4 linked regions of the Homo sapiens genome follow. The protein of the gene in region 2 interacts with the protein of the main gene of each other region in a pairwise test. Each region holds a gene or a part of one and is shown on either strand. Other genes may lie near its edges. The genes, in order: L3MBTL2, NRF1, SP4 and KLF15.

The links.
Region 1: the proteins of NRF1 (region 2) and L3MBTL2 interact in binary tests that used the Homo sapiens proteins (3 or more experiments, as listed by UniProt).
Region 3: the proteins of NRF1 (region 2) and SP4 interact in binary tests that used the Homo sapiens proteins (3 or more experiments, as listed by UniProt).
Region 4: the proteins of NRF1 (region 2) and KLF15 interact in binary tests that used the Homo sapiens proteins (3 or more experiments, as listed by UniProt).

What each region holds. Positions count from the first base shown.
Region 1 is NC_000022.11:41,201,383-41,208,324, reverse strand, and holds the start of L3MBTL2 (lethal(3)malignant brain tumor-like protein 2), read right to left. Parts: upstream 3,014-6,942; 5' UTR 2,963-3,013; coding exon 2,939-2,962; intron 1-2,938. UniProt on the Homo sapiens protein: Putative Polycomb group (PcG) protein. PcG proteins maintain the transcriptionally repressive state of genes, probably via a modification of chromatin, rendering it heritably changed in its expressibility.
Region 2 is NC_000007.14:129,754,676-129,757,576, reverse strand, and holds the end of NRF1 (nuclear respiratory factor 1), read right to left. Parts: intron 2,560-2,901; coding exon 2,396-2,559; 3' UTR 501-2,395; downstream 1-500. UniProt on the Homo sapiens protein: Transcription factor that activates the expression of the EIF2S1 (EIF2-alpha) gene. Links the transcriptional modulation of key metabolic genes to cellular growth and development.
Region 3 is NC_000007.14:21,480,060-21,487,103, reverse strand, and holds part of SP4 (transcription factor Sp4), read right to left. Parts: intron 5,603-7,044; coding exon of another isoform or gene 5,524-5,602; exon of another isoform or gene 5,181-5,523; coding exon 4,981-5,180; exon of another isoform or gene 4,980-4,980; intron 4,680-4,979; coding exon of another isoform or gene 4,651-4,679; exon of another isoform or gene 4,546-4,650; intron 4,494-4,545; coding exon of another isoform or gene 4,480-4,493; exon of another isoform or gene 1-4,479. UniProt on the Homo sapiens protein: Binds to GT and GC boxes promoters elements. Probable transcriptional activator.
Region 4 is NC_000003.12:126,342,106-126,347,423, reverse strand, and holds the end of KLF15 (Krueppel-like factor 15), read left to right. Parts: intron 1-3,528; coding exon 3,529-3,697; 3' UTR 3,698-4,789; downstream 4,790-5,318. UniProt on the Homo sapiens protein: Transcriptional regulator that binds to the GA element of the CLCNKA promoter. Binds to the KCNIP2 promoter and regulates KCNIP2 circadian expression in the heart. Is a repressor of CCN2 expression, involved in the control of cardiac fibrosis.

The sequences.
Region 1 (6,942 bases), on a different chromosome or scaffold from region 2:
CACCCCATCTCTACAAAAGAAAAAAAAATTAGCCAGGTGTGGTGGCATGCGCCTGTAGTCCCAGCTTCTTGGAGCTGAGGTGGAAGGACTGCTTGAGCCTGGGAGGTCAAGGCTGTAGTGAGCCATAACCATGCCACTGCAATCCAGCCTGGGCAAGAGAATGACATCCTGTCTCCAAAGAAAAAGAAAAAAAAGCTGGGTGCGGTGGCTCACACCTATAATCCCAGCACTTTGGGTGACCGAGGCGGGCGGATCACTTAAGACCAGGAGTTCAAGACCATCCTGGCCAACATGGTGAAATCCCATCTCTAGTAAAAATACAAAAAATAGCTGGGCATGATGGTGGGTGCCTGAAATCCCAGCTACTCGGGAGGCTGAGGCAGGAGAATCACTTGAACCCAGGAGTTGGAGGTTGCAGTGAGCCGAGATTGCACCACTGCCCTCCAGCCTGGGCAACAGAGTGAGACTCCTTCTCAAAAAAAAAAAGCTGGGTGGTGGTGGCATGCACCTGTGGCTCTAGCTACTCAGAAGGCTGAGGTGGGAAGACAGCTTGAGCCTGGGAGGTCAAGGCTGCACTGAATCATGATCACACCATTGCACTCCAGCCTGGATGACAGAGGGAAGACACTGTCTCAAAGGAAAAAAAAGGTGTGAAGAAAGGAGAAAAGTTTGGCCTCTGGTCCAGAGCTCAAATATCTCTAGTGCTTACTCGCTGTATGACCTGCAGCAAGTCAATTTTGCAGTGCTTCAGTTTCCACATCTGTACAATGAGGATAGTACCACCTATTTCATAGGGTTTGGGGGCTGGCCATGGTGGCTCATGCCTGTAATCCCAGCACTTTGGGAGGCCGAGACAGGAGGATTGCTTGAGCCTAGGAGTTCAAGACCAGACTGGGCAACATAGGGAAACCCTGTCTCTATAAAAAATGGAAAAAATTAGCTGGGTGTTTTGGTTAGGGAGGCTGAGGTGGGAGGAACTCTTGAGCCAGGGAGGTCAAGGCTGCAGTTAGCTATGACTGCACCACTGCACTCCAGCCTGGGTGACAGAGAGCAACCCTGTTTCAAAAAAAAAAAAAAAAAAAAAAAAAGGATTTGGGGGAGAAGTAAGAGACGATACAGGCAAAGCTCTCAGAATAGTGACTTGCATATAGTAAGTGCTCAATAAAGGTTGCCAATTTTTACTGGTTGAAAGCATAGGCTCTGATTTGCCTGAGTTTGAATCCTGGCTCTAACATTTATTAACTGTGTGATTTTGTGCGTATTTTATCTTGCTGCTGTCATCATTACAAGAGAGGTAATAAGCTTTCTTTAGAGAATTCTTACGAAGATTGAGATAAGATATGTAAAACCTAGTTCTATTTCCAGCAGTCAGTAACAGCTCTAAAAGTGTGACTTGCTATTCTTATTCTCCACATGATTATTCTCGTTTACCCTTGCAGAAAGTTTGAGCTATTCCACCTTATATTTGCAACTACACATGCAAATATGCTAGAAAGGAAGCAATTTTTTTTTTTTTTTGAGACACAGTCTCGCTCTGTCGTCCAGGCTGGAGTGCAGTGGTGCAGTGGCCCGATCTCGGCTCACTGCAAGCTCCGCCTCCCACGTTCACGCCATTCTCCCGCCTCAGCCTCCCGAGTAGCTGGGACTACAGGTGCCTGCCACCACGCCCGGCTAATTTTTTTGTATTTTTAGTAGAGATGGGGTTTCACCATGTTAGCCAGGATGGTCTCGATCTCCTGACCTCGTGATCTGCCCGCCTCGGCCTCCCAAAGTGCTGGGATTACAGGCGTGAGCCACCGCACCCAGCAAGGAAACAATTCAAATATAGGTACCCTTGTCAGGCAGGGTGACAGAGACCACCTATAGTCCCAGCTACTTAGGAGGCTGAGGTGTAAGGATTGCTTGAGCCCAAGAGTTAGAGGCTGCAGTGCGTTGTCATCACGCCTGTGAGTAACCACTGCATTCCAGCCAGGGCAACATAGGAACACCCCGTCTCTTAAATATAAGGTGCCCAGAAACCAAATGATTAAAGGATGAGGCGGGGTGCAGTGGCTCATGCCTGTAATCCCAGCACTTTGGGAGGCCGAGGTGAAGCAGACAGATCACCTGAGGTCAGGAGTTCGAGACCAATCCGACCAACATGGCAAAACCTCGTCTCTACTAAAAATACAAAAATTAGCCGGGTGTGGTGACACATGCCTGTAATCCCAGGAACATGGGAGATGGAGACAGAATTGCTTGAACCCGGGAGACGGAGGTTGCAGTGAGCCGAGATCGCGCCACTGCACTCCAGCCTAGGTGACAGAGCAAGACTCCGTCTGAAAGAAAAAAAAAAAAGGATGAGTGGGTTCCAGGTTGCAGTACAGTGTGAAAAGCATAACAGGCAAAGTTTCAGAGGCGGACAGACTTAGTGCCAATCTCCTTCACTTTCCAGCCGGGGTAACTTCCTGGGGTGTCGCACCACCTCTAAGCCTCAGTGGCTTGAACGACAAAGACGAAAGAATAATACATGATTGCTGTGAGTGTACTGGAAGATAATGCACGTGAACGTTACAGACAAGGAGTGATGTTCACCCAACTTTAATCTCCCTTCACTTCCCACCTCATGTAACAGGCCTCACAAGCCCTAAACAACACAGCCACGAGACAAGCAGGATAAGGAAGATTCAGGAGCTCTCAGATCCTAAACCTAGTTCCCTTTCCCCCAGGCCAGGGACGGCTGTTCCTCCCTGAACTCCTCGCCGAACGTTGGCCCCAGCAGGAGAGGGGCAAAAAGTAACGTCAATTGCCTCTGCCCCTGGCTCAGTTTAACTACCTCAGTTTATCCATCCTCCCACCCTCCACCCTCCAGGCGTCGCTAAAAGCCCTAAAGAAGGGCCCACGGAGCGAGGCTCTCGGAGTTCCCTTTCCCAGTCACGCTAAGTCCTCGCCTTCTCACCTCAATACTCCGGGGCTTCTCCATGAGACCTCAGTTTCGCCAAGCGTCACCAGGTGCAGGAAGCCATATTGGCCTGCCCCGTCGCTCTCCGCGAGAGCACTCATTGGTCGCCTCCCTGAGCCGCGGGCCAATCACGCTGCAGGAAGGAGGAAAAGCCGGTTCCGTGCCTGCTCCCGCCATTCTCTCCCTGTGGGCGGGGAAGCCGCGGGCGGTTATGGGAATTGTAGTTCGCATGTGTGCAGGGTGAGTCGTTACCATAGCGACGTGGAAACCAGGGGCGCTGGAAACCTGGTGCGCCTCACGCCGAGTGTTCCAATTACGCCAACCTCTTGACTTCACTGGATGTTATTCTTCCCTAAACGGTTATTGAGCACCTATGATAGTCACTGTTCCAGACTCCAGGAATAACCTCGTACTCTCCCGGGTTAGATATTTAAGGTGCCCTTTTGCTGGGATGCATAGCAGAGGGACTCATTTCCAACTCAGGCAGAAACTGGACTACTCCAGATTAAAAAGAAAAAAAAAAGGAAGAAACTGGAATACTCTGTGTGTGTGTGTGTGTGTGTGTGTGTGTGTGTGTGTGTGTGTGTGTGTGTTTTCTTGAGACGAAGTCTTGCCCTGTCGCCCAGGCTGGAGTGCCGTGGCGCGATCTCGGTTCACTGCAACCTACGCCTGCCAGGTTCAAGCGATTCTCCTGCCTCAGCCTCCCAAGTAACTGGGACTACAGGCGCCCACCACCAAGCCCGGCTAATTTTTGTATTTTTTAGTAGAGACGGGGTTTCACCAGGCTGGTCTTGAACTCCTGACCTCGGGATCCACCCGCCTCGGCCTCCCAAAGTGCTGGGATTACAGGCGTGAACCACCGCGCCCGGCTGAAACTGGAATATTCTTTTTCTCAATACTGTAAATGTCCAGCCTGCTCAAAATCTTACAACATTCCTCCTTCACCACTCTCTCCTGGGTAAAAACCTCGAATCTGAGGCTCTCTGCCTCATCCCGTTAGGGTTTCCCACAACCTCCTTAGACACCCTGAGTTCTAGGTGCTGTTGTGGAGCTTTGCAAACATCTTTTCAAACCCTTAGACATCCTATCACCGTTTGAAAGAAGAGGAAGTGGTGGCTCTTCACCACTTCAGGTTTAGGCACTTTCCAAGATCACACAGGATTGGGATTCCAAATTTAGTACAGATTCCTTCCCTATGCCATGCCGTGTCCCAGTGAATTAATTGAGACTCTAAATGCAATATGTGGAGGCTGAATACATATAAAATATATGCCTAAATTTGAAGTCCGCCGTGGAGATGTCAAACTCTTCCTAGAGGTCTTTCTTTCCTTCAACCCCTTCCACCCTAAACCCCTGTATCCATGCTGTCAACGTGTTGGTTTTTCTACCTCCAAAATATATCCTGTATTTCCTCCACCACTACCACTCTAATACAAGCCACCGGCCCATTGCAGCAGCCCTTCAACTGGTCACCCTTTCTTTCTTTCTTTTATTGATTGATTGATTGATTGAGATGGAGTCTCCCCTGTCGCCCAGGCTGGAATGCAGTGGGATCTCCACTCACTGCAACCTCCACCTCCTGTGGTCACCCTTTTTAAATCTTCACCTTTAATACACACAGGTGATCTTTAAAACTCATTGACCTGGCCGGGTGCAGTGGATCACGCCTGTAATCCCAGCACTTTGGGAGGCCAAGATGGACAGATCACAAGGTCAGGAGATCGAGACCAGCCTGGCCAAGATGATGAAACCCTATCTCTACTAAAAATACAACTATTAGCTGGGTGTGATGACGGGTGCCTGTAATCCCAGCTACTTGGGAGGCTAAGGCAGGAGAATCGCTTGAACAAGGGAGTCAGAGGTTGCAGTGAGCCGAGATTGCACCACTACACTCCAGCCTGGGCAACAGAGCAAGACTCCATCTCAAAAAATAAAAATAAAAATAAATGTTCTGGAATAAGATAGTGGTGAAAAAAAAAGAAAAAGACAGGTTGGTTCAGCAAGTGCAAAGGCCACATTGGTGGAACAGCAAGTGCAAAGGTCCTGGGGCCAACTCAAGCTTGGTATGCAATAAACAGAAAGACAGAGAGAGTAGATGGATATAGCAAAACATGGAGAGGGTGATACAAGATGAGGTTTGAGAGAAAGCTGAGACCAGGTCATTCAGGGTCTTGTGGAGTGCTTGGATTTTATTCTGTGCAAGGGAACGGCATTAGAGTTTTTTTGTTTGTTTGTTTTTGAGACAGAGTTTCACTCTTGTTGCCCAGGCTTGAGTGCAATGGCGCGATCTCGGCTCATCACAACCTCTGCCTCCCAGGTTCAGGCAATTCTCCTGCCTCAGCCTCCCAAGTAGCTAGGATTACAGGCATGCACCACCACACCTGGCTAATTTTTTTTTTTTTTTTTTGTATTTTTAGTAGAGATGGGGTTTCTCCATGTTGGTCAGGCTGGTCTCGAACTCCCGACCTCAGGTGATTCGCCCACCTGGGCAAATGGTCTTGATCGCCTGACCTCGTGATCCGCCTGCCTTGGCCTCCCAAAGTGCTGGGATCACAGGCCTGAGCCACTGTGCCCAGCTAAAAATTTTTTAAAATTAGCTAAGTGTAGTGGCATGTACCTGTGGTCCCAGATACTCTGGAGGCTGAGGAGGGAGGATTGCTTGAGCCCAGGAGGTTGAGGCTACAGTGAACCATGTTCATGCCACTGCACTCTACCCTGGTGACAGAGAAAAAAAAAAGTTGTCTGGCTGGGCATGGTGGCTCACACCTGTAATCCCAGCACTTTGGGACGCTGAGGCAGGTGGATAACTTGATATCAGGAGTTCTGCCAGACGCGGTGGCTCACGCCTGTAATCCCAGGACTTTGGGAGGCCAAGGTGGGCGGATCACCTGAGGTCAGGAGTTCAAGACCAGCCTGGCCGACATGGTGAAACCCCATCTTTACTAAAAATACAAAAATTAGCCGGGCTTGGTGAGGCATGCCTGTAATCCCAGCAACTCCGGAGGCTGAGGCAGGAGAATCGCTTGAACCTAGGAGGCGGAAGTTGCAGTGAGCTGAGATCGCGCCATTGCACTCCAGCTTGGAAAAAAAACAAAAAAGGAATTCTAGACCACCCTGGCCAACATGGTGAAAACCCTGTGTCAATTAAAAAAAATTACAAAATATTAGCCTGGTGTGGTGGCACAAGCGTATAGTCCCAGCTACTTGGGAGGCTGAGGTGGGTGGATCACTTGAGGTCAGGAGTTTGAGACCAGCCTAGCTAACATGGTGAAACCCCATCTCTACTAAAAATAGAAAAATATTGGCCGGGCACAGTGGCTCATGCCTGTAATCCAAGGACTTTGGAAGGCTGAGGCAGGTGGATCACCTGAGGTCAGGAGTTCGAGACCAGCCTGACCAATATGGTGAAACCCCATCTGTGCTAAAACTACAAAAATTAGCCGGGTGTGGTGACATGCGCCTGTAGTCTCAGCTACTCGGGAGGCTGAGACCGGAGAATTGCTTGAATCAGGGCGGTGGAGGATGCAGTGAGCCGAGATTATGCCACTGTACTCCAGCCTGGGCGACAGAGCAAGATTTTCTCTCAAAAAACAAACAAACAAACAAAAACCAACAACAACAAAAAAGTTGTCTGGGTGGAATAGCACAATGGCAGGGCATAGAGCAGAAGAGGTGAGTTTAAGGGATTTATGTACATAGTTTGGAACAGAAGAGCACGTTTGTGTTGCTATTGGGAGTGATCTAGTAGAGAGAGACAGATCAATGATCCCAGACAGAGGGACAGTGATGCACAGAGGGAGGGCCTTAAAAGAGAGGAGCGTATTAGGTCCACATGTAGAGGGATGAATTAGTCCAGCCAAAAAGGGTACCTTTGCTGCAGGATGAAACCCCTGCCCAGGAGCTCCATAGCAGAAGGAACTGCCACACTGTTACTGTTCTGGGGCGGCCACTATTGCTTAGCAACCTGTGCTTAATAAGATGTTTCAACTGAATTCCTAATA
Region 2 (2,901 bases):
GCCTCCTGGGTTCAAGCGATTCTCCTGCCTCAGCCTCCTGAATAGCTGGGATTACAGGCGCCCGCCACCATGCCCAGCTAATTTTTCTATTTTTAGTAGAGACAAGGTTTCACCATGTTGGCCAGGCTGGTCTGGAACTCCTGACCTCAAGTGATCCACTCACCTTGGCCTCCCAAAGTGCTGGGATTACAGGCGGGAGCCACTGTGCCCGGCCTAGGATTTTTTAAATACGATTTTTTCCCCAGAACGTCAGTATAAGAAAACACGTTATATATGAAATGTATGAAATGGAGCAGGTCTGGTGATGGGGCTCGCAGGGGGCTCTGGGCAATCTTCAGTGTCTTCTTTACGGAGGTCCCCAGCGTCGGAGTGGCACAGGTCGGAGACCGCTGATCTCGAGTAGGACTGCATTTTAAACGCAGAACGAGCTGCCCCAAGATAGAGTTCCTTTTGCCTAAGAAGCCAAGAGCTCCTATAGAGATGAACAATTCCACTTCCTGTTGCCACATTTTTAACTATTTATTGAATGAGGCAGTCAAAGACAGAATGGGAAACAACACAGAATCCATGCTCTGCTACTGGGGTTTTGCTTTTTTCTTCGTCTTGGCAACTTCTCAAACTATTTGGAGGTTATTTCACCACAAAGGAACATGGACTTTAAAGTCCCTGGACAACTTCACAATGACGATAAAAAATAATAATTAAAAAAATAACAAATTGTAGAACTAGGACTATTTATATGTAAATTTCCCTCCCCTCCCCCCATTACGTACAGAAAAGAACATATAAAGAACATTAGATAGTTTTATATAAAACAAGCAAATACAAGAATCTGAAACTTCTCTCAAAGGTTGAGCAAGACGTGGAGAATCTTTTAATGTCGCATTAAAAAAACACATTAAATACACCATCACACACATGGGGAGAGCTGGGAGGAGGGAGGAGGAGCTGTCCCTGTACTCAAGGTTCAGAGATTTGGCCTGTTGAAAAGTCAGGTGAATTCAGCTACTGGAGACTCAGGGCTTGCAGCTGAGAAAGACAGAGTTAACGGTTACCAAGAACACCCAGATAGTCAACACCTCTGAGGAGGCAAGCTGCTCCCGGCCTGGGCCACGAGGTTGCATCAAGGAACATGGGCCTCCAGGAGTCCCTTCTGAAGCAGGGCCTGATCCAGGAACACAGCAAACACCCTCAGCTGTTTTCTATGGCCAGGTGTCCCTTCTTCCCTTCCGCGTACTGACCGGGCCCAACCAAGCTTAGCTTCCAAGATCACACAAGATCAGGGGCGTTCAGGGTGCTGTGGCCACAGACCAGATGTCTCTTCTTGTTCATTCCAGCGCCTCCTCTGTGAAGCTACAGACAGTAGAGAAAATTGCTCCCACGGGTGTATCCTGGTCTAGGACGATTTTTCTTTCCTTCCTTTCCCTTCCACTGCCCCCGCCCCCTTCCCATCCTCTCCCCCACCATGCACGCACACACACAAGCACACTTACACGCACGCACTCCTCAAACCCCTAATACTTCGGTTACCTTCAGTTCATATATACGAGCAATTCAGGACTGACCTTAAAACCAGAGCAACATTTTAATAGTCATGAGATCAAGGATTCCTGGGAAGGAGAGGAGATGGGAGGCTGAGGCCCGGGAGCTTTCAAGACATTCATCTGCCTGTGGCAAGGTCAGCACCTGGGCCAGCCCGAGGAGCATCTCAGCTGGCAGACCACGCAGTCCCTGGACCTTGCAAGCACATCTCTGACCCACCCCATGCTGGAGCCTCTTTCCTCAGGTGAGTCCAGCAGGGAGAGTTCTGTGTGGCCACTGGGAGGCAGCTTTGGTGAAGGGCATGGTCACCTCCGCCTGAGTTTGTCAGTAGCTCAACGCATGACCCTGGTATGAACAAAAACTGGGTGACTGTGTCTGGCCACGTACCCTACCACCCACTAAACTGGGTGAATTATTGTTTCCACAGCGCACCTTGATTTCATACAGATAATTCCATGCGGGTTTCATACATATATATATATATATATGTATATATATACTTTATATATATGTAAATGTGTATGTCCATATGTACACATATACATATATTCACACTCACACATACACACACATAAGTATACACACACATTTCCGCAGAAAGAAGTCCTGCCACAATTTGGCTTTTTTGGGACAGTGAAATTGACAATGCAGTTTCTTCACCAATCCCAGAAAATCAAGAGTGGTGCTTTAAAAAATGCAATTCCAAAATCCGCTTTCTTCCTTTTAAAAAAAAAAAGGTTAACAAAACTTTCCTTCCAAAGTCGAGAGACTTAATTCCATTTGATTGCACCTCTGCAAACGTGTAAAAAATTTTGAAGTAGACTAGAAAACGATGCCATAATATGGCTGTATGTCACTGTTCCAATGTCACCACCTCCACAGCTTGGCCGTCCATGGTGACTGCGCTGTCTGATATCCTGGTGGTCACAGGGGCCATGGCCACCTGCACTGGTCCGTTGCCCTGGGCGAGGCTGGTCACCACAGTCTGGTACATGCTCACAGGGATCTGGACCAGGCCTGGAGAGACAAAGAGAAGACCGTTGGTGGGGCTCAGGCTCAAGTTCCCAGATGCTGGCTGGACGGGGGCACCCAAGTCTTGCCTTTGAGGTATCGTGGTCACCAGCCTCAGGTGATCACATACCCATGGCCCAGGCACAAAGACATCTCTTTCCCACCCCATTAAAATTTTTTTCATTAATTTTTAAGATTTATAATTGATATATAGTAACTGTTCATGTTTATGGGGTACAATGTGATGTTTCAATGCATGTATACACTGTAGAATGATCAAATCAAGAAAATTACCATATTAATCTCTTTAAAGATTTATCATTCATTGTGGTGACAACATTCAAAATC
Region 3 (7,044 bases), about 110 Mb from region 2:
AAAAGAACTACTCATGAGACCATACCAATGTAAATAAATGATTGCATAAATAATTGGAGAAGAAAGTATAAGTGGTACAAAGAACAAGGAAAATTGAAAATGACCTTTCAAACATCACAGTAATAACTGCTGCAGGCAAGATCCACTGAGGAATGCTAAAAGTGAAGCTTTAGTATTTTATTTGTAAAAAAGCCCCCCAAACTCCTCTAAAATAGTAATTATTGTGGTGGTTTTAACATATGTCCACAAATTCTTCGATACTTCTCCCTTCAGGAGGTGAAGCTTAGTTCTCTTCCCCCTGAATGTCGACTGAACTTAGTGACTTGCTTCTAACAAACAATATGGAAAGAGAGAAACTGTAACTTTACAGTGAAGAAATGTGGCACACCCTACATTAACCAATACATCAGGGTTAACATCACCAATAATGAGATAATCACATTACATACTTCCTCTTATATGATAAGAGAAAGACACTAATGTGCTATTCTTCTCATGACAATTCACAATCTTACTCTAATCATTAGAAAACATTAGACAAACCCAATGTGACAGACATTCTAAAAATACCAAAACCACTTTCAAATGTGTCCAGGTGATAAAAGACAAGGAAAGGACTAGGAAAAGTCACAGATTGCAGGAGACTAAGGAAACATGACAAACAAATGCAGTGTGTTATTCCAGACTGAATCCTGGAAAAGAAAAGGTATATTGGTGGAAAGTGTAATTAATAGTATTGCAACAATGTTAATTTCTTAATTCTCATAAGGTACTGTGGTTATACAAGAAGTTTACAATAAGGGAAGCTTGGTGAATGATATGCGAACTCTATGCTAGCTTTGCAACTCTTCTCTAAGTATAAAATTATTTCAAAATAAAAATAAAGCTGCAGGGAAGAAATCAGGTCACCTACAGAAAAAAAAAACAAGAAAAAATAACAAACCTCTTGTTGATAAAACAGATGAAAGAAAATAGAGCTGTGACAATGTTTTAAGAGAATGTAATTTTCAATCTAGAATACTGTATTAGCCAAACAACCAAATTAAGCAGAAAGAGAAAATAAAGAATCCTTTAGACAAATTTATTTCCCCAAGCTTTTCGTTAGGAAGCATTTCAGCACGTTTTCCAGCAACGAAGAGAGTAGACCAAGAAAAATGAAAACACGAGATCTTGAGAACCAATATGAGATCTAAAACGAACAGAGAAGGGAAGAAATCTCAAGATAATACCCCTGGAACAGGTCTACAGAAGAAACTGTTCATGTTCATTAGAAAGATGGAAGGCTCCAGAAAAAAGGAAAATGTGACTGGAATTCACATTGTTCTTAAAAACTTGAAATAACTAAAGATTATTTCAGGTAAAGTCAAACAATACAAGAAAAAAGAAAAGGCATTGTCTAACTTTATTGGAAATAGAGTGGTGAGTTAAGAGAGAATGCCTGGCCTGCATACAGTTTTTCAAAAGAATCTTAATGTCTTCAGATGGTGCAAAGTGAAGTAAATCCTTAATTCTAAATGCAAGAACTCAATAGATAGTATAAAATATTGATAGATCAATAAATAACAGTGTTTAAGTATATGATTTAGATACATGACAGTCATCCTAGAAAGAACAAAAATGCAAAAATAGTTAAAATAGTTAGCTATGATATTCTCTGGAAAGCAGGATGGGGTGGGGCAAAGAGCCTCCTTATTACAGTAAACTTTTCTGTGATTTCATTTTTAAATACCATATGCATATATTGTTTTGAAAACCTTTACAAATTTTTTTAAAAAGCAAACAGATCACTATTTTCAGCAGTGAATACAAATAACTCCATTCATTCATAGCCAAGTCAATAAGTTTCTATTTGTAGTAGTGGTTAGACATCAAATAAAGCATAGTTGTTGCTACGAATGGTTAAGGCTTTCAACTTAACATATTAAATGCTTAATCAATACTTATTTCAAAATATATTTTTTCATATTCTTTTAGACAAATTTAACAAACAGGAGTTACTCTGTTAAATCTTTAAAAGTAACAATTTTAAGTATACTGATATTAATATTTTTTAGTGTCAACCTGTTTTAATTAAACAATTTTATGTGTGATATATTTAAGATGTTTGAACCACTGAAAGTAAGCTTAAAGTATATTGGATTATGAATTGTCAATCCAGTAGATAATAATGGTGTGAATCTTTTTTTTAAAGATATGCCCCAAATCATAATATTTGGTTTTGAAGTATATGTATATATAAATTCTTAAATAAATTTGTTTTGTGTATCTGCAAGTGTGTGGATGTGTAAGAGAGAGGGACTTTACCAACTCATCATTTCTTAGACAAAATGAAGCAATCATAATGTGAGGTTCCAAATCAAACAAAGTAGAAAATTTTCTTGGCTTCCCTAATTTATCCCACTGCTAATCCAGGATGGAAACACTGCATCCTTTCATGCAGACCTAAATAGCAGAGTATTTTTCTAAAACAGATATCAACAACTGGTATGGAATTAACTTTTAATCAATCATATTTGCCAACGTCAATGGTGTATATACTATACAGAAAGATTTCAAATTATCTTTTTTAAAATTAAAATTCAGAGCTTTACTATAATGCTAACTTTTTCAGGGATTGCGACGCTATACTAACACAGGGTGAGCATCCCTAATACAAAAATCTAAAATCCAAATTGCTCCAAAATCTGAAACTTTTTGAGTGTTGACACGATCCCACAAGTAGAAAATTCCACACATAAGTACTTAACACAAACTTTCACACATAAAATTATTAAAAATATTGTATAAGATTACCTTCAGTCTTTATGTATAAGGTATATATGAAACAAAAATGAATCCCCGAAGTATTGCATTGTGCACATGCAAAATCTGAAAAAATCCGAAATCTAGAACATTTCTAGTCCCAAGCATTTCAGACAAGGGGTACTCAATCTGTACTCATTTGTATTACTACTTTATGTGTATATCAAATTAAATAACTTTATATTTACCATTTTTAATAGATTTCATAATTTTTTCTTTTCTGATACTACTTTCTAATCTTAAAATGGAGCTAATTTCTATGCCGGTGTTGCTGTTGTTAGAATCAAATGAAGTAATATATTCAAAATATCTGACTATAATATAGCAGCTGATTTAGAAATGTCAGTTTTATTTCTCCCTTTGTCCCACATGTATCTTGGTACAGGTTTAAAGTATAAAGTATAATTCAATAATTTATTGAAATTAATTTATTCAATAATGAAATACTGAGTCCCAAATTCTAAATATTCTGAAAAGGGTAGGTGTTCTGGGCAAAAAAAGAAAAAAAAATAAAGAAAGAAGGAAAATTGCCCAAAAAGAAGTCAAGGCTTAATATAAAACCACAGTCATTAATATAGTAAGAGCATTGGTGTAGGAACTGGCAAATAGATAAAAACTTCAAAACAGAGAAACCAGAAATTGAACCACACTTAAAGGAGACATTATGTAAAAGAGGACAATCAATAGAGACAGAATGGGCTGTTTAAGAAAGGGCTTTCCATATGAAAGAAAAATAAAATTGTATTCTCATTTCATTCCATCAACAAAAAGAATCTTGAGCGAATAAAAGATCAAACTTACAAAAATAAAACTTTAAAGCTATTAGAAGAAATTGTTTTTTGAGACTTTATGACCTTGGGACAGAAGAAAAATTTATAAACAAAAAGCAAAAGACAAAAGAAAAGATTTATATTTGACTAAATAAAAATGTAAGACTTCCATATGACAAAAGGTATGACAAAGATAAAAGACTAGCACTAGTCCTTTATTGAAAGGGAAAAGTATAACATATAAATCATATAAATAAGGAAAACTTCTGAAAGAAAAAATGAGAACCAGAATTAAAAAACAAAGCCATAAATGACTAATATACATATGAAAGGTGCTTAATCTCATGGATAACCATGAAAAACACAAATTTTTAAAATAAGAAACAATTTTAGATTGAAAAAAACTTTCAAGGCCTGACACTACTGGGTACTGGTGAGCACAAAGTGGAAACTATCAATCACTGCTAGTTAAATAGCCACTGTAGAGACTCTTTAGCCATTACCTAGCAAAACCAAACATACACATTCTCTATGATCCAATAATTCCACTTCTCACACATGTTCTCATCAACTAAGTTTGTGATAGCACACACAAACCCTAGCAATAACCTCAAACAGTATGGGAATGAATTAATATAGTGTGGTAGACTCATGTGATAAAATATTATATAGCAGTTCAAGGAAATTCATATATGCAAATATACATATATGTACAAACAGATCTCAAAACAAGTGAAATTTATAATTCTGCAACATTGTAACATTTCATAACACACACAAAACATTTTTTATGTAGATCCATTAATCATATATGTCAGAGTATTAAAAGTGTACGTAAAACTTAGACACATTAGATTTATAGCAGCTGCAGTCTTTGAAAGGTGAAAGGGTAAACATGATGTTCACTTTATAACTGCTTTGCTGTATTTGAAAAAAAGCAGAAAATATAATATTAACAACTGACCATTCTGACTGAGGGTTGTTAGATGTTTATTATTTAATTATTCTTGATACTTTGGTGAATTTTCTGGATTTGTTAAGAAAAAAAAAAACTAAAACACACTAATGAAAGTCCCCATTAAGATGATAATTCAACTCTCTTTTCACCTATTTAAACACTTATGAAAAACAATGTATGATTTCAACATGCTAAGATTACAATATAAACAAATGGAATAAATTCCACTTGTCTCATAAATATGCTGATAAAGTTTACAAAAAGTAGAATAAAATGTATCTCAGAAATGAGGTTAAAAATGTTCATCTTAAACATCTTCCATATAATTGCTAAAGTAAATGCCTTCTCCTTCATTTGCATATTTCCAATTTGATAGCTAAACTATCACTAAAATTTTCATGTAAAAACTGAAGAAATAAGTAAAAAGTACAAGTCCTAAAATCAACTAACCTGTATGGGTTCTTCTATGTCTCTGGAGCTCATCACTCCGTGTGAATCTTTTGCCACAAAACATCCAGTTGCATATAAAAGGTCTTTCTCCAGTATGCCAGCGAAGATGTGCTCGTAAATGAGATGTTTTGCCATAAACTTTACCACATCCTTCAATATGACAGATATGCTGCTTCTTTTTTCCTGGTTCATTACTGCCTCTAGCAAAAACAAAAACCGAACATTAATTACACTGCCAAATAGTAGGTTTACAATTATAGAAAAATTAAAAAGAATCAAGGTAATTAAATGATGCTTCTCTGAATAGGTTTGATCATGATGCCATAACTGTAGTTCAAATCAGAAAATTTTCAGTTAAAGACAAAATAAAACAGGTCTGTGTACCAAATTGCTATGAAAATGTGTTAATCTCAAAGAGTTTATGCTCTATTATGGACTCACGTTCCTGGTCATAGTGGGCTCTTCCCTTGGGAAAAAAATCTCTCTAAGCCTTTCAAAACACTTGAAACTTCTCTAAAATTTCAAAAGGATGGCTAAATCCAGTTAAAAGTGTAAGATGCAGAGTTTCGTTTCTAGCAGGGCAGTGTGAGGAGTTCCATGGATCTGTTTCCCAGTGAAAATTCTAAAAAAAGCAAAAAATACCATTTAAAGTCTCTGGAAATGGTTCTAAAAGCAAATAACAGCAAATAAAGAAACATTTATTCAAGAAAATCTCACAGAAATTGGTAAGAACAGTAAGAGTCTGTGGTATTTGAACCAAGACTCTCCCCTTCCCTACTTCCTCCCGTTTCCACACAGGAACATTAGAGACTGGTGCAGCTAAGAATATGATTCCTACTCTTCCCACCTCCCGGTCAGAGGAGTATGGCCCCAGGAGGGGCAAGATGTCTGCATTTCTTATCTTACCCCTGGTTGCCTGTTGCTAAGTTCCAGGCAAGTGTAGCAGAACCAAGTCCTTAGCCCTGGGACATAGACTCTACCTTGGATGTGGCATGATGAAAATACTGGGGTCCAGGTTGCCCTTGACCTGGCCCATTCATAGTTCATAAAGTCAAAGTTCTAAGCCAGGAGAGGCCAGTTGAGAAGACCTGAGGCTATTGCTGCCCCAGCAACCAGGCACTCAGCTCTTAAAGCAGGGTTGTAACTCAGAAAGAAAGCCACTGTCTCAACCCCCGGTTCAAAAGCCATAAGTCAGAAACACACCATAAAACAAAGAGCTCCAAATCTCTTCCCAAAGGAATTGACTTCATTTGCAAGACAATGTGAAGAAGTTCAAGCCTAAGGGTACTCTCAAAAAAAGTAGAGATGGTTTCAAAAGGCAGTTAATTGGGAGAAGACTAAGAGATTCACTGGAAATAAAGGCTTAACTACAGGTTGGCTAGTTTGCCAGAAAGAAGTGAGCAAAGAGGCTGTGAAGAACCTTCTTAGGGTCAGAAAAAATGTCAAATATTGAGATTCTTGGGAAAAGTAAACAAAACTAACAAACTTTTAGCTAGACTGACCAAGAAAGTAGGACTCAAATTATTAGAATCAGAAATCAAAGAGGAGATATCACTACCAACCTTATAGAAACAAAAAGGATTACAAAGGAATACCATGAACAATTCTACGGCAATTACTTGGGTAACTCAGAGGAGATGGACAAATTCCTAGAAAAATACGGACCAAAATACTAAAACTGACTCAAGAACAAATAATCAATCAGAATACACCTACAACAAGCAACTAGACTGAATTCGTAATTAAAACTACCCATAAGAAAAGCCCAAGAACAGACAGCTTCACTGGTAAATTCCACAAAACATTTAAAGAATTAATACCAGTTTGGAGGGAATACTTTCCAATTCATTCTATGAAGCCAGTATTATCATTACCAAAATCAGATAAAAACAATACAAAAAGAAAACCACAGACATCTCTCTTATGAATATGGATGCAAAAATCCTCAACAAAATACAAGCACACTGTCAACATTGTACCAGAGGTTCCAGACAGAGAAACTAAGCAAGAAAAAGAAACAGAACTCCTGCAGAGTAGAAAGGAAAAAGTAAAAACTATCTCTGT
Region 4 (5,318 bases), on a different chromosome or scaffold from region 2:
GTAGGTGCAGGATTCAAACTTAGGGGTCTGGCTCCCAGCCTGCTCTCATGACCCCTCTGCATTGAGGCTTTTTCTGACCTCCTTCCCTCTGTAGGCAGAGGCCCCCAGTATGGTTGGGCAGGTTGTGAACTGCACAACTCTAGGGAGCACCATTTCCATTGCAGTTTCTGAGACTGGACTGTTTGCGGTGTTGTCTGGCGGATGAGGGTTAGTGTCTCAAGGAAGGGACGCCTTCATACAGAAGTGCTGTATGCACCAGCCCTGACATTATAGCTGCTCTAGAGAGACACTGGACCCCTGTGTACCCTCTGCCCTACAGCTCAGCACAAATCATAGTGCTGCCCTGTCTGCAGCAGGACCCACCAGGAACCAGGCCCAACACTCAACTCCATGCAGGTGATAAGAGCTCATCATTCTTGAATAATTGCCACGTGCTAAGCAGGGCTCTAAACCGTTACTGGTTGCCTTGTACAATCCTCACAGTCCTCAGGAATAGGTCTTTTGTTCTCCCTTTGTCTGGGTAGAGAAACTGAGGCTCAGGGAGCTTGGTGACTTTCCTAGTTTGCCTGGTTGGTAAGTGGCAGAGCTTACTGCCTACAAGGGCTGCATCTTACCCACCGGGTTCCCACATCCCCCACTGTAGTCCCCAGGGCTCTCTGTTGGCTGCTGTTTGGGAGAATGTGGCATGCAGGGGTGAGGCAGGGGGTCTTCTGAGGGCTCAGTTCCCAGGGAAGTTCCTCTCAGGTGCCAGGACCCTGTGGCAGCAGGGAGGGAATTCAGGTGAGGACAGCATGTTGTCCAGCTTGGTTCTATCTCATCTGCCTGTCCTTCCCAGGGTGTCACCATGACCAGAGATCTGTGTGGCCCCACGTCACCACCTGTGGCCTTTGAGATGAGTCTTGGAAGGTGGGCAGGAATGCCAGAGTCTTCATTGGATGAATGAAGAAATTGAGGCCCAGAAAGGACCATTCAGGGCACCCAGTGGGGTGGGAACTGTCAAGGCAGGAGCCTGAGACTCTGTCCCCTGGGCTGTGTGACTTGGCCTCTTTAAACCCTTGCCATGGTCTTGCCAGTCCAATGGGGCTGGCTCATCCTGGTTCCCTGGCCAGTGAGATGCTGGGTGACCCCAGGGCTGCAGCCTGGGAGGCGTGGCACTCTGTGTCTGCAGCTTTCTGCTTACCCCTGCCCTGGGCCAGCTCCTCTGCTCAGAAGCTGTGTGCCCAGCTGCAGCTGGGGGCAGGTGTCCTGCCCAGGAGCACAGGTGTCAGCTTTGACTGCCAGGGCACATTTATCCCATTTCCTCACTGGCACAGGGCCCTGTGACACACACACCCATCCAGGCCTGTACAGGAGGCTGGGGGGCTCTGCTGACTGGGAGTCCAGGTCATCTGCCATTGCCAGGGCAGGGGGCTGTGTCAAGACCTCTGCTCCAGCCTCAGGGGCCCTGTCTTGTCAGTGACCTGGACCAGGCCCTCAGCACCCTGAGCTTCAGTTTCCTCCTCTGACAGGCAGGGCAGTTGGGCTTCACCTAGTCTGGAGATGTGCTGAAAGCACTGCCCTGTGCCTGGTGCCACCACCACTCTGTGATGTGAGTCGGAGTTCCTGTCTCCTCCTGCAGGCCCTCCTGCCACCCCCTGTGCCTTGTCCAGAGCATGTTCTGCTGGGTCCTTCTGCTCTTCCACCCACAGGGTCAGGGCGCCAGGGCATCACCAGCCCTTACCAATTGCTGGGTGGGAACTGCTGCTCTGGGCACCGCCTCTCGCTGGGTGGCCCTGGTCCACAAAGGGGTGTTGGGCCTCGTGTCCCTGTGTGTGTGTGTGTGCGTGAGTACATGGGGGCATGAATTTGTGCCTGTGTGTGTGTGTGTGTGAGTATGTGTGGGCACATATTCGTCCGTGTATGTTTGTGTGCCTGTATGTGTGGGCATGTATTTGTCCGTGTGTGTGTGCGTGCATGCTTTGGGACTGCTCCTTGACAGTGTCTGCCCCCCTAGGGCTGCTTGCTGTGCCCACTCTTGCATTGAAATCCACCTCCTCAGCACCTACCATATACCAGGCATTGGGCTGGTCATGGGAAGACCACCGGGAACCAAGACAAACATGTCCTTTGTCATGGAGCTGACAGTCTAGTGGGACAGACTGACAGTCATCAAAAAGTTGAAGATAATTTAAAATCAAAACAACAGCAAGAATGAGGAGAGAGAGGTGTGTAATGCCACAGGAGCCTAGAATTGGATGCAGTCCTGGAGGGATTTCCTAAGGAAGTGACATTCGAGCTGAGCTCTAAGGAATGGGTAGGAGAGAGCAAGGAGGGGGAGGGAAGAACATTCTAGAAAGAGGGAACAGTATGTGCAAATGGCCTGTGGCAAGAAGGACCAAGGAAAGGTCAATGCAGGTGGAGCACAGAGCGGGATAGTGTGTCGTGGGAGGGGTAGGTGGGGTGGGAGGGACCTGCTGCCAAGCCAGGGGTGGAGAGGGCCTCAAATCCCTGAGGTTGGTGGCAAGCAGTCCAGGCCCTCGATGCAGCTTGGGCTCTTGACTGTCACATGAGTGCCTGCTCCCAGGCCAGCAGGGCCAAGAAAGCGAAATGTCGGGAGCCACCTGAACTCCCAGATACACTTTGCAGGGTCAATCTTTATTTGGGCCTGCCTTAGAGGGCCCAGCTTCCAGCACAGCTGGTTTCAGGAGTGGGTGGACTCAAGTCTGAGGACCTCTCTCCCTGTGCTGCTTCCTCCTCCCAGGCCTCCGTTTCCCCTCCGGATGGGCGGTCCTGTACAGGCCTTCACAGATGCCCCTGTGGAGTTCTGGTCCAGTGGGGTAGATGAGGCCAGGGTGGTGAGAGGCAGCCAGCATCAGGGCCTGAGCGACTGAGTGCACCTGTGGCCTCAGAGACCCCTGCACACTGGGTGGGCTGTGGGAGGGAAGCCCTGGTCCCTGGTAGCATTGGGGTCCTTTCCTGTTGGGAGCTTTTACCAGCTGCTCTGGCAGTTCCCAACAGAGAATGCCCACTGTGCCAGCATGAGCCTTTACTGTAGTTCTTTCCATCTTGGAGGGGTGGCAGGGGCAGCTTGGCACAGTGGCTCACGCCTTTAATCCCAGCACTTTGGGAAGCTGAAGTAGCCTGATCGCTTGAGCCCAGGAGTTTGACACCAGCCTGGGCAACATAGGGAGGCCTGGTCTCTAAAAAAAAATACAAAAACTATCTGGGTGTGGTGGGCACACCTGTAATCCTAGCTACTCTGGAGGCTAAGGAGGATTGATTGAGCCCGGGAGGCTGCAGTGAGCTGTGATGGCGCCACTGCACTCCAGCCTGTCTCAAAAAAAGAAAAAAAAATGGTATTTTGAGAACTGGTATAGCCTTACCGACGTAGATGGGGGACCCTCCCCTAATCCTGTAGAGGCTGCAGGTCTGCGCAGCCACCCTTTGGGTGAGTGCCAGGTGCACGCCTTGCATCCCGGCAACTTCGTGGGGTCGGGGCAGGCAGGGGCAGGCAGGGCCAGGCCTCGCTGACCGCGCCATGTCCCGCAGGTTCTCGCGCTCTGACGAGCTGTCGCGGCACAGGCGCTCGCACTCAGGTGTGAAGCCGTACCAGTGTCCTGTGTGCGAGAAGAAGTTCGCGCGGAGCGACCACCTCTCCAAGCACATCAAGGTGCACCGCTTCCCGCGGAGCAGCCGCTCCGTGCGCTCCGTGAACTGAAAGCGCCCTGAACCCCAGCCTGTCCGTCACCCCGGATCCCCACCCCATCCCCATTTTTTTAAGCAATAATTTATTTGCCTCCTCCAGAGGGACATGGCAATGTTACCAGCCCACCTTCTGAAGCCTGGGAGGTGTGAACCCAGGGCCCGCCAACCGCTGCCTTTCTCGGGAGTACTTAGAGCCTCGAACCCGCGTCCCTGGGGGCTGGGCCCCAGGCGCACGGGGCTGGAGGCAGGCCTTCGTGCCTTCGTGCCTTCGTGCCTTCCCGCGGTGGCCAGGCCTCTGCTGCAGCCGCTGGTTGCAGGCAGAGTTTTGGGGACCTGGCCCTTCTCCCACTGGGCTCCCCCATCCTGGGCCAAGGCCAGAACTTTAGTGCTAGGGGAAGATGAAATGTGCAGTTTTGAAATGTTGGGTTTCCAGAGAGAGTCATGCTGGAGGAGAAGGAAGTAGGCCAGAAGTCCAGGGCTGCACTGTGGTGTGAGGGTGGCTTTGTCTAAGATGCCTGCTCAGCATGATCACCAGAGGGTGTGGGCAGGTCCCTGGAGCCGGGGGGGGGGGGGGGGGGGGGGGGGGGCAGGACCGGGCCGCTGGGCCCTCATGTGGGAGAGAGGTGAAAAGCGTCCCCCACTAGGGGGCTGGCAGTGCATGTGCTTGAGTTAAATGTGCAGGGCAGACAGAGCCAGAAGGGCCTGTACCCAGGGGCTCGTCCCCTCCTCCGGTTTCCCAGACAAATCCAGACACCAGCCTTTAGGGTGGCCTTGGGAGGAGAGGGCCAGGCTGTCCTGGGTGTGAGAGAACTAGATAGAGCCTCCCAACCCTGATTTAGAAATGCATTCCTTATTTTGTCTAGAAATTAATAAATGAACTAGCTTGTTTTGACAGGTTTATTTCACATCCTATGAATGTATGTAAATAAACTGTACATAGGTCCATCCACATAAAATATCTTTTAATAACATATCAACATTTGTGTAAATTTGAAATTTAAAAAAATCTATGAAGCTGGTGTACATATGTTACAATTACGTATATTTTCTTTGGTCCTTCATAAAAATATATTTACTTTGCCAATAAAAAGAAAAAGAACTCACAGCTTTTGGCATTCATGTGCTGTTTTCCTGCTTTGCCGGGATGTGGAGGTGACTCTGGGGCCGAGTCTATGTCTCCACCTTCGCAGAGTTCAGGGAACTCTGTTTTGTATTTGGAGGGATAGAAAGGCCCCTTGGGGTCCAGCCCCGGTCCAGCAGGGTAGGGTTCCCATACAGCTCAGCTCCAGGCCAGCTGCTGAGATTCTGCTCATCCCGGCTCCCTGACCTGGAGCTCCGTAAACCCAAATCCAGCCCACATTCCGACAGCACCTGTGGGAAGCTGCCTCAGGCCTGGCCAGTCCTGCGAGGCTCACCTACTCTGCTATCGGAGACCCTTTCTTGCACTTCCTACCCCCATCCAGTCCACCAAACCTATTACACATGCCCTATATGTTTGCTGTGCCTTGGCAGAGTATTTACCCCCTTAGGAACGTGGCTGTGCCATTTCCTACTGGCGTGGGTAATTGTGAAAGTGTTAGGAATCCTGAGCAGGCAGAGGTGAGACTCGGAGAGGCCAGTATATGCAGTTACGT